Linked DNA regions of Homo sapiens. The protein of the gene in region 2 purifies or fractionates together with the protein of the main gene of each other region. This does not show direct contact. Each region holds a gene or a part of one and is shown on either strand. Other genes may lie near its edges.

The links.
Region 1: the proteins of LIN52 (region 2) and BRMS1L purify together in Homo sapiens (affinity purification with mass spectrometry, with the first as the bait; one large-scale study listed by BioGRID). This does not show direct contact.

What each region holds. Positions count from the first base shown.
Region 1 is NC_000014.9:35,832,838-35,836,337, forward strand, and holds part of BRMS1L (breast cancer metastasis-suppressor 1-like protein), read left to right. Parts: intron 1-140; coding exon 141-268; intron 269-2,006; coding exon 2,007-2,086; intron 2,087-3,500. UniProt on the Homo sapiens protein: Involved in the histone deacetylase (HDAC1)-dependent transcriptional repression activity. When overexpressed in lung cancer cell line that lacks p53/TP53 expression, inhibits cell growth.
Region 2 is NC_000014.9:74,192,956-74,196,455, reverse strand, and holds part of LIN52 (protein lin-52 homolog), read right to left. Parts: exon of another isoform or gene 3,179-3,500; intron 1-3,178.

The DNA of each region.
Region 1 (3,500 bases), about 38 Mb from region 2:
CTGCTTGAGATCAAGGCAAAATATATTTGATAGATTATTAGAATATAAATGATATTGGGAACAAATAATGTATAGAAATGGCAAATTGTTAGCCTTTGTTGAGATTTTTAAATTAACATATTAATTTTTGCTTTGTTAAGACTTTATAAAGAACGATTAAGTCAGGTGGATGCAAAACTACAAGAAGTCATAGCTGGAAAAGCACCAGAATACTTGGAACCGCTGGCAACTTTACAGGAAAATATGCAAATTCGTACAAAGGTAGCAGGTAGGAAAGTGAAGAATCTTTTCCATATATAGAATGTAAACTCTTCAGTAGCTTTAAAAGGTGTTTATCAAGTAAGTGTTTTATGTTGATGGGATTACAAGCATATTTACATCGACCAGAATATTTTACTTTTAGTTAGCCCACAGTTACTGTATTTATTGAATACCTCTTGCTTTGCTCTGCTGCTGTAGGGGATTAAAAAAAAAAAAAGCCCTCAAGTTGTTTACAGTGTTGTTGAGAAGATAGTTCCACATTTGGTGAAACAACTGGAAACCATGATACTTTCATTAAGAGAGACTGTTACTATCACATTTTAATTCCCTATTAGATAAAGTTTAAGTGTTCTAGGCATTTTTTTAATACGTAAAAGTGATAGGATTTTTTTTAATTTATAAAAAATTTTAAAAATGTTTGATCAGGATATTATAGAACAGGAAACTTGCCTTGAACTAGATGATTTAATTTTTCCTTTTTACTTTGATAAGTTTGGTTACTCATTTGTGGCTACAAATAAACAAAGATGCACTATATTTGTATGGTTACATTTCAGTCTTATGTTTGTAAATAGGATCCAGCCTCAGTATCATGTCCTGGCACTCATAATCAAGGGATATATATATGATTTTTCATAGTCAAAAACTAAACTTTAATTAGTGGAGATGCTGGTTGTTTTTCTCTTATGTGGCACTAATTGACCCTTATGTACCTGTTAGATAATACCTAAGGCATTGTTGATAATAAGTTCTTTTTACTAAACCCTCCTTTAACCAAATTTTATTTTTGAGTGCTTAATATTATGTAGATGATATGATACTCTTCACTGCTATCTTTACATATTGACAACATACCCTTAGAAGTAAAAATATCCCTAATTTTCTTTGTTCTTTTAGATTACATGGATGATCAGGAAATATTACTTGAGTCGATTATTTACTTTTCTACTCTGGCCTCTTTTATATTTTGATTTTGCAGAGTAGTGTGTGTGAATGTGTTGCTGATGACGTAGTTCCAGATATCTGTCTCTTGCCTTTACTATACAAAGAGAGATAATTACATTTCTAGGGCCAACTATGGCATAAAGCTTAGAATACATATCCAGAGCTCTTTGCGTGCCGTTTTTGTAGTGACATATTTGCATGGCCATGTTACCTATTTTATACTATTGTCCTGTTAGGGTCTAAGTTAAACTATCTTGGGTATCCATCCTCTAGATAAAGTCCTGTCAGGAGCACTCCAGACATAATTGATTTTGTTATATCAGTTTATATACATTTACTCCTCGTGGATTCTTTGGATTGAAAATGATAGTTAAAAAAAAAGTGGTTTTGGTGGGGTATAGTATCTAGCTGTTACTCTGAGTATATGTGATTGATGACACCAGAGTTTATTATCTCCATTTCTATTTTGAGAAACTTGAGAGATTGTTTTTCACAGGAAAAGAGTTTTATTTTCATTTTGATTATTCTGTATCAAACATTTAGGAGTAATCTTTAGAAGAATAGATTAAGAACAAAAACTAGCAGTACAGTTTCTTTCTAGCTCTTATAATTTCTAATCTTTTTGGATATATATTTTAAGTGAGCCTTTTATTTTTAGTCTTTAAAGACAAAGTTAGACTCACTTTTCAATTTTTTCTTGATCCATCTTATTAAATACAGTGAGGACAGAATTCCTGTAGGGAAGTGATAATGGAACTTCTCATTGCTAACATAATCAGAGTAATTGTGTTTGGTTGCAGGAATCTATAGAGAGCTCTGCTTAGAATCTGTAAAGAACAAATATGAATGTGAAATTCAAGCTTCTCGCCAGCATTGTGAGGTACTGTCATTTTGCATAACTTTTAAGCTAATTTCATCTCTTCAAGCCTTTTCTGAGTGTAGTAGTTAAAAAAGTAAACTAAGTAAAACAATATTAAATAGTACTTTAGCTCATCATTTGTGTGTGATTAAAAAAAAAAAAGAATAGAGTTGCATTGGAAGCTGTATTGGAGATAGGACACAAAGAAAGGACCATAGAAAAAAACTGAGATAATTTTAGAAGTTTTGCAGCTGTTACTTTAAAAAGACTTTGCAACGATTATGTCACCTGGCATTACTGAAAATATTAGTATAATTAGTATAATGTGGATTAGATTTGCGAAATATACACTCAATGGTGCAGTTAGGATGTTGGGCTATAGAATTAGTTTCTGTCTGTCTAGACCTATTTCCACATCTTTGGGCAGAATTCTCTATTTATGGGAAAAAAAATAGGTATATTTTTCTGTATATTCTGTTTATTTTGCATTTAACCCATTTATGCTGAAGGTTGCAATTTTTTTGTGTGTGTGAAAAATCAGATCTTGGTGATGACCTTGAGCAGTAGGATATAAATAACTCCCACAAGCTTAACATTCCAGTAATGGAACACTAGGCATAAATGGGTTAAAATATTTATAGCATTTAAAAAACATAGTGCCCAGGCATGGTGGCTCACACCTGTAATCCCAAGAGTTTAGGAGGCTGAGGCGAGAGGATTTCTTGAGCTCAGGAAGTCAAGACCAGTCTGGGCAACATAGTGAGACCCCCCACCTCTACAAAAAATAGAAAAATTAGCTGGGCATGGTGGCAGGTGGCTGTAGTCCTAGCTACTCAGGAGGCTGAGGTGAGGGGATTGCTTGACCTTCGGAGGTTGAGGCTGCAGTGAGCTGTGATTGTGCCACTGTTCTGCAGCCTGGGTAACAGAGTGTCACCCTGTCTCAGAAATAGCAACTACAACAACAACAAACAAAAAAACCCCATAGTGCCCGTTTTGCAGATAACTTTTTATCAAATCTAGACAAGATTATAGATATACAGGTAGAAATAAGAGGACAAGTTCTATAACGATTCTTCTGTCACTTTAATGTGCCGTAAACTAAGAGTAGTTAGGTATAAAAATGATAGAGCTCATTGTTTCATTTTCATAATTACAACTGAGATTGATTATCTTTTTGGCGTTTACTAGCTGCTTGGATATTTTTTCCTAAGAAGTGCCTATTTGTATTTCTTGCCTTTGTGTTGGCTTTTAGTCTTTCCCTCATTGACTATATAAGTTCTTTATATATTCTGGCTATAAATGCTTTGCTGGTTGTATGCTTTGCAAATCTTTTTGCCCAGGTGGTACGATGTTTTCACTCTTTCTGATGACTTGCTGCAAAGAAGTTTTACATTTTAATGTAGTTGAATTTATTATCTTTTTATTTATGGGATGT
Region 2 (3,500 bases):
AGAGCCTTGTTCCAAAAATCCTGGGCCTGGAGCACTGCATTGCTCTAACCAATGATTTCTGCCTGCTGACCTTCAGACTCACCAACTCCTTACTGTTTTTCCCCAAATGGGAAAATGACCAATATTTTAAGACTTAGAATTTTAAAAGATCCACACAATTTAAGGGGTCAAAAGGGTTTAAAAGGAAAAATAAATAGATATTCTGAAGTCTCTCAGTGGCAAGCTCTCCTTGAATTTAACCAATCCTTTTTAACAACCCTTTTTCTACTCAATCATTCCTCCCCCTTCAACCTAATCCAAGTACACAGAGCTGCAGGAAACCACTGTAAAAGTAGAAGTAATTCAAAAGACATCATCTCCTACATGGGAGGAGAGAAAGTTTTCCTACTCGCCAGTCCCATACAGGAGATATACGAATGTATGACACAGCCGCTCCCTAAAAGAGGGCTGTGCCCTATAAATCAGATGCTAAGCACCAACCCCTTTTTGTGCACAGAGAAATTGCTGTGGGTCAGGGGCTGCTCCAGAGCACGTGCCCTCCTGTTCACTTGTCATCAGAGATGTTAACATTTCTGATTAATTCATATAGCCCTTATTTTATTCCTCATTTCTTTATCCTTGCTCTGCTGCAGGGCGAAGATTCTTACCGACCTGCTACAGTAATCACCGCCCGCTAACCGAACCCCCCCAAACCTAGTGAAATTGTTTAGTGATGCCAACTGCGCTTTTAATTTGCAAGACATCAGACACAGAGGTAATTTATACTAACATCTGTTCATTTTTGACTTCTGAAACAAACTTGCACATACTGCTACAAAATCCCATTAGGAGTAGGGAGACAGCCTTCTGCTACTATTCTGTATTCCTCGTCTACACGCGCACACACACACACACACACATACACACACACACCCACACACACCTCTTCTAGTAGGGTCTTATAAATAAATGTATTTTACTCTTAGCTTTTTAAGCTCCCATCAGGAATTTCAAATCTCTTTGGGGAAAAATCTTTAGAGATGACTACTGCCTGCTTACAGAGAAGAGAAAGCCATTTCTATTCCCCACTGCCTGGTTCTGTCCCTTCTTCTTCACAATGGTTGTAGCTTGGTATAATTCTAGGATGAATGGCCAGAGTAAGACTACATGTTCTTCAGCTTGGCACTCCCAGTTCCTCCATTTTCTCCTTTTTCTTTGTTCCCCATAATGTATTATATTATATAGAAAACAATTCTAGACACAACAAGATTGGGAGAGAGAGAGTGTTATATAGAGTCAGTGAAATCTGTCAACTATTTTCTTTTTTTTTGAAACAGAGTCTCGCTCTTGTTGCCCAGGTTGGAGTGCAATGTTGCAATCTCAGCTCACTGCAACCTCTGCCTCCCCGGTTCAAGTGATTCTCCTGCCACAGTCTCTCAAGTAGCTGGGATTACAAGCATGCACCACCACACTTGGCTAATTCTTTGTATTTTTGGTACAGACAGGTTTTCACCATGTTGGCCAGGCTGGTCTCGGACTCCTGACCTCAGTTGATCTGCCCGCCTTGGCCTCCCAAAGTGCTAGGATTATAGGCATGAGCCACCTCGCCCAGCCTGTCAACTATTTTTTTGATTCTGGATTTATTCTCTAAGATTACAAGGTTTCACAGGAAGGCAACACCGCTTCCATTCTAATAACTATGCCAAGAGGGGCCCACTGGTCATCAGCTACTGGTGTATGCCGTGCAGGAGAGAAGCATGACCCCTATGTCAAGTCATGATTTACAGGCCCTATTATGTCGTACATAGATCACAAATTGAGAAAGCCACAATTGAAACTGTCACTATAGGGTTAACATGTGAAATGCTGCAGAGTGTGGAGAGGGGACTGGCTACTACACACTGAGAGACAGCAAATGGATAGACTACAATCAACTTTCAGGTTTCCACTGTTTCTGTTATCCCCCACCACTTTCGTAGTTCCTCCAGGGCTATCCAGTTCATGGCAGCTGTAAATACCTGGGTATACTTGGAGAGGTCAGGGCTGAAAGGAGGACTCCACTGTGCCTGCTCTGAAAGTGGTGTGTGGTTTAATATAATCTCTTCTTTAGACTCTCCAATTCCTCCATCCTACATTTAGCCTTGCTTCTGGCTCACTTTCCACGATAACTATCCCCAAACTGCCTTCTCTGCAGTAAATTTTTCTGGTGGCTGGTTGAAAAAGATTCAGTGGTACAGATTGATTTCTCACTGGTGAGGGATGAGGGATTACCAGAGGCACCCTGGTTAACGAGATTGGGTGCAGAACCTCTCTCAAGACCAGCCCTCTCTGCCAGGGCTCTGCACCTTTCCCCAATGACATATGGGTTTTATTACAGAAAGATTGTCCAGATTATAACTTTGAGGCAATTGCCTGATAAAATTCTGCTCAGCTTTTATGTAGGGAACAATGTAAATTTTAAGAAACTTTTTAATGAAGTGGAAGAAACTCATAGTTCAGTTTTTCAATTCCAATGCAAACTACTTTAAATATTTCTATGCCTCAACATAATTAAAAATGTTTGTGAAGCGGGGACAAATTACTTTCCACTGGGTTTCTCATATTCAGAAGAGCAATAACAGGTTGCTTTTAGGAGATTGTAATATGAGTGGCCAGGAAACAAAGGAGACAATGTAATATTGTGAAAAGAGCAGGACTTCAGCTCTTACATTGACCCTGGGCCACATAGGCAAATTACCAAGTTATTTTTCTGAGCTCCTTTCCTCATTCATTCAAGGTAGGATTAATACAAAGTCACACAGGCATTCAATAAATGCTAGCTACTGTAAAACTATTTGTTTCATTTCAAACAGAAAGTTTACTTAAGCAATAGGATGCCTGGTGGGAAAACTATCTAAGATTCATTTCTTTTAGAGTAACTTATCCCTACTTAAAGACATATTGCCCTACATGTAACAGCTATGTACAAGAGTTTAAAAACTGGTTGGTTTTAGAATGACACGTGAAAAACACCAAAATTCTCAAATTTAACAAGGTATGGAAGGATTTTTTTTTTTTTTATAAGAGACAAGGTCTCGTTCTGTCACCCAGGCTGGAGTGCAGTGGTGCAGCCATAGCTCACTGCAGCCTCAACCTCCTGGACTCAAGTGATCCTCCTGCCTCAGCCTCCTAAGTAGTTGTGACTACAGGCATGCAATACCTGGCTAATTTTTTTCTTTTTTTTTTTTTTGTGGAGACAGGATCTTGAACTACTAGCTTCAAGCATGGAAGGATTTTTTGTTATTGATTTTTATTAAATGATGAGGCAAAATAACTTAATGAAGTATAAAGATAAGAGCTGAATGAGCATGCCACTAATGGAGAAAGGGGGCATTGCCACAGAATCAGTATTTATCCCCATCTTATCTCCATCTGATGTTGATCAAAACATATCATTGGCCATTTAGTTTAAAAATAAAAAGGTAATATGCTTGTGCACAAATGCCAGTCACTTTATGCACAGTAAAGGAATGAGAAAGGGG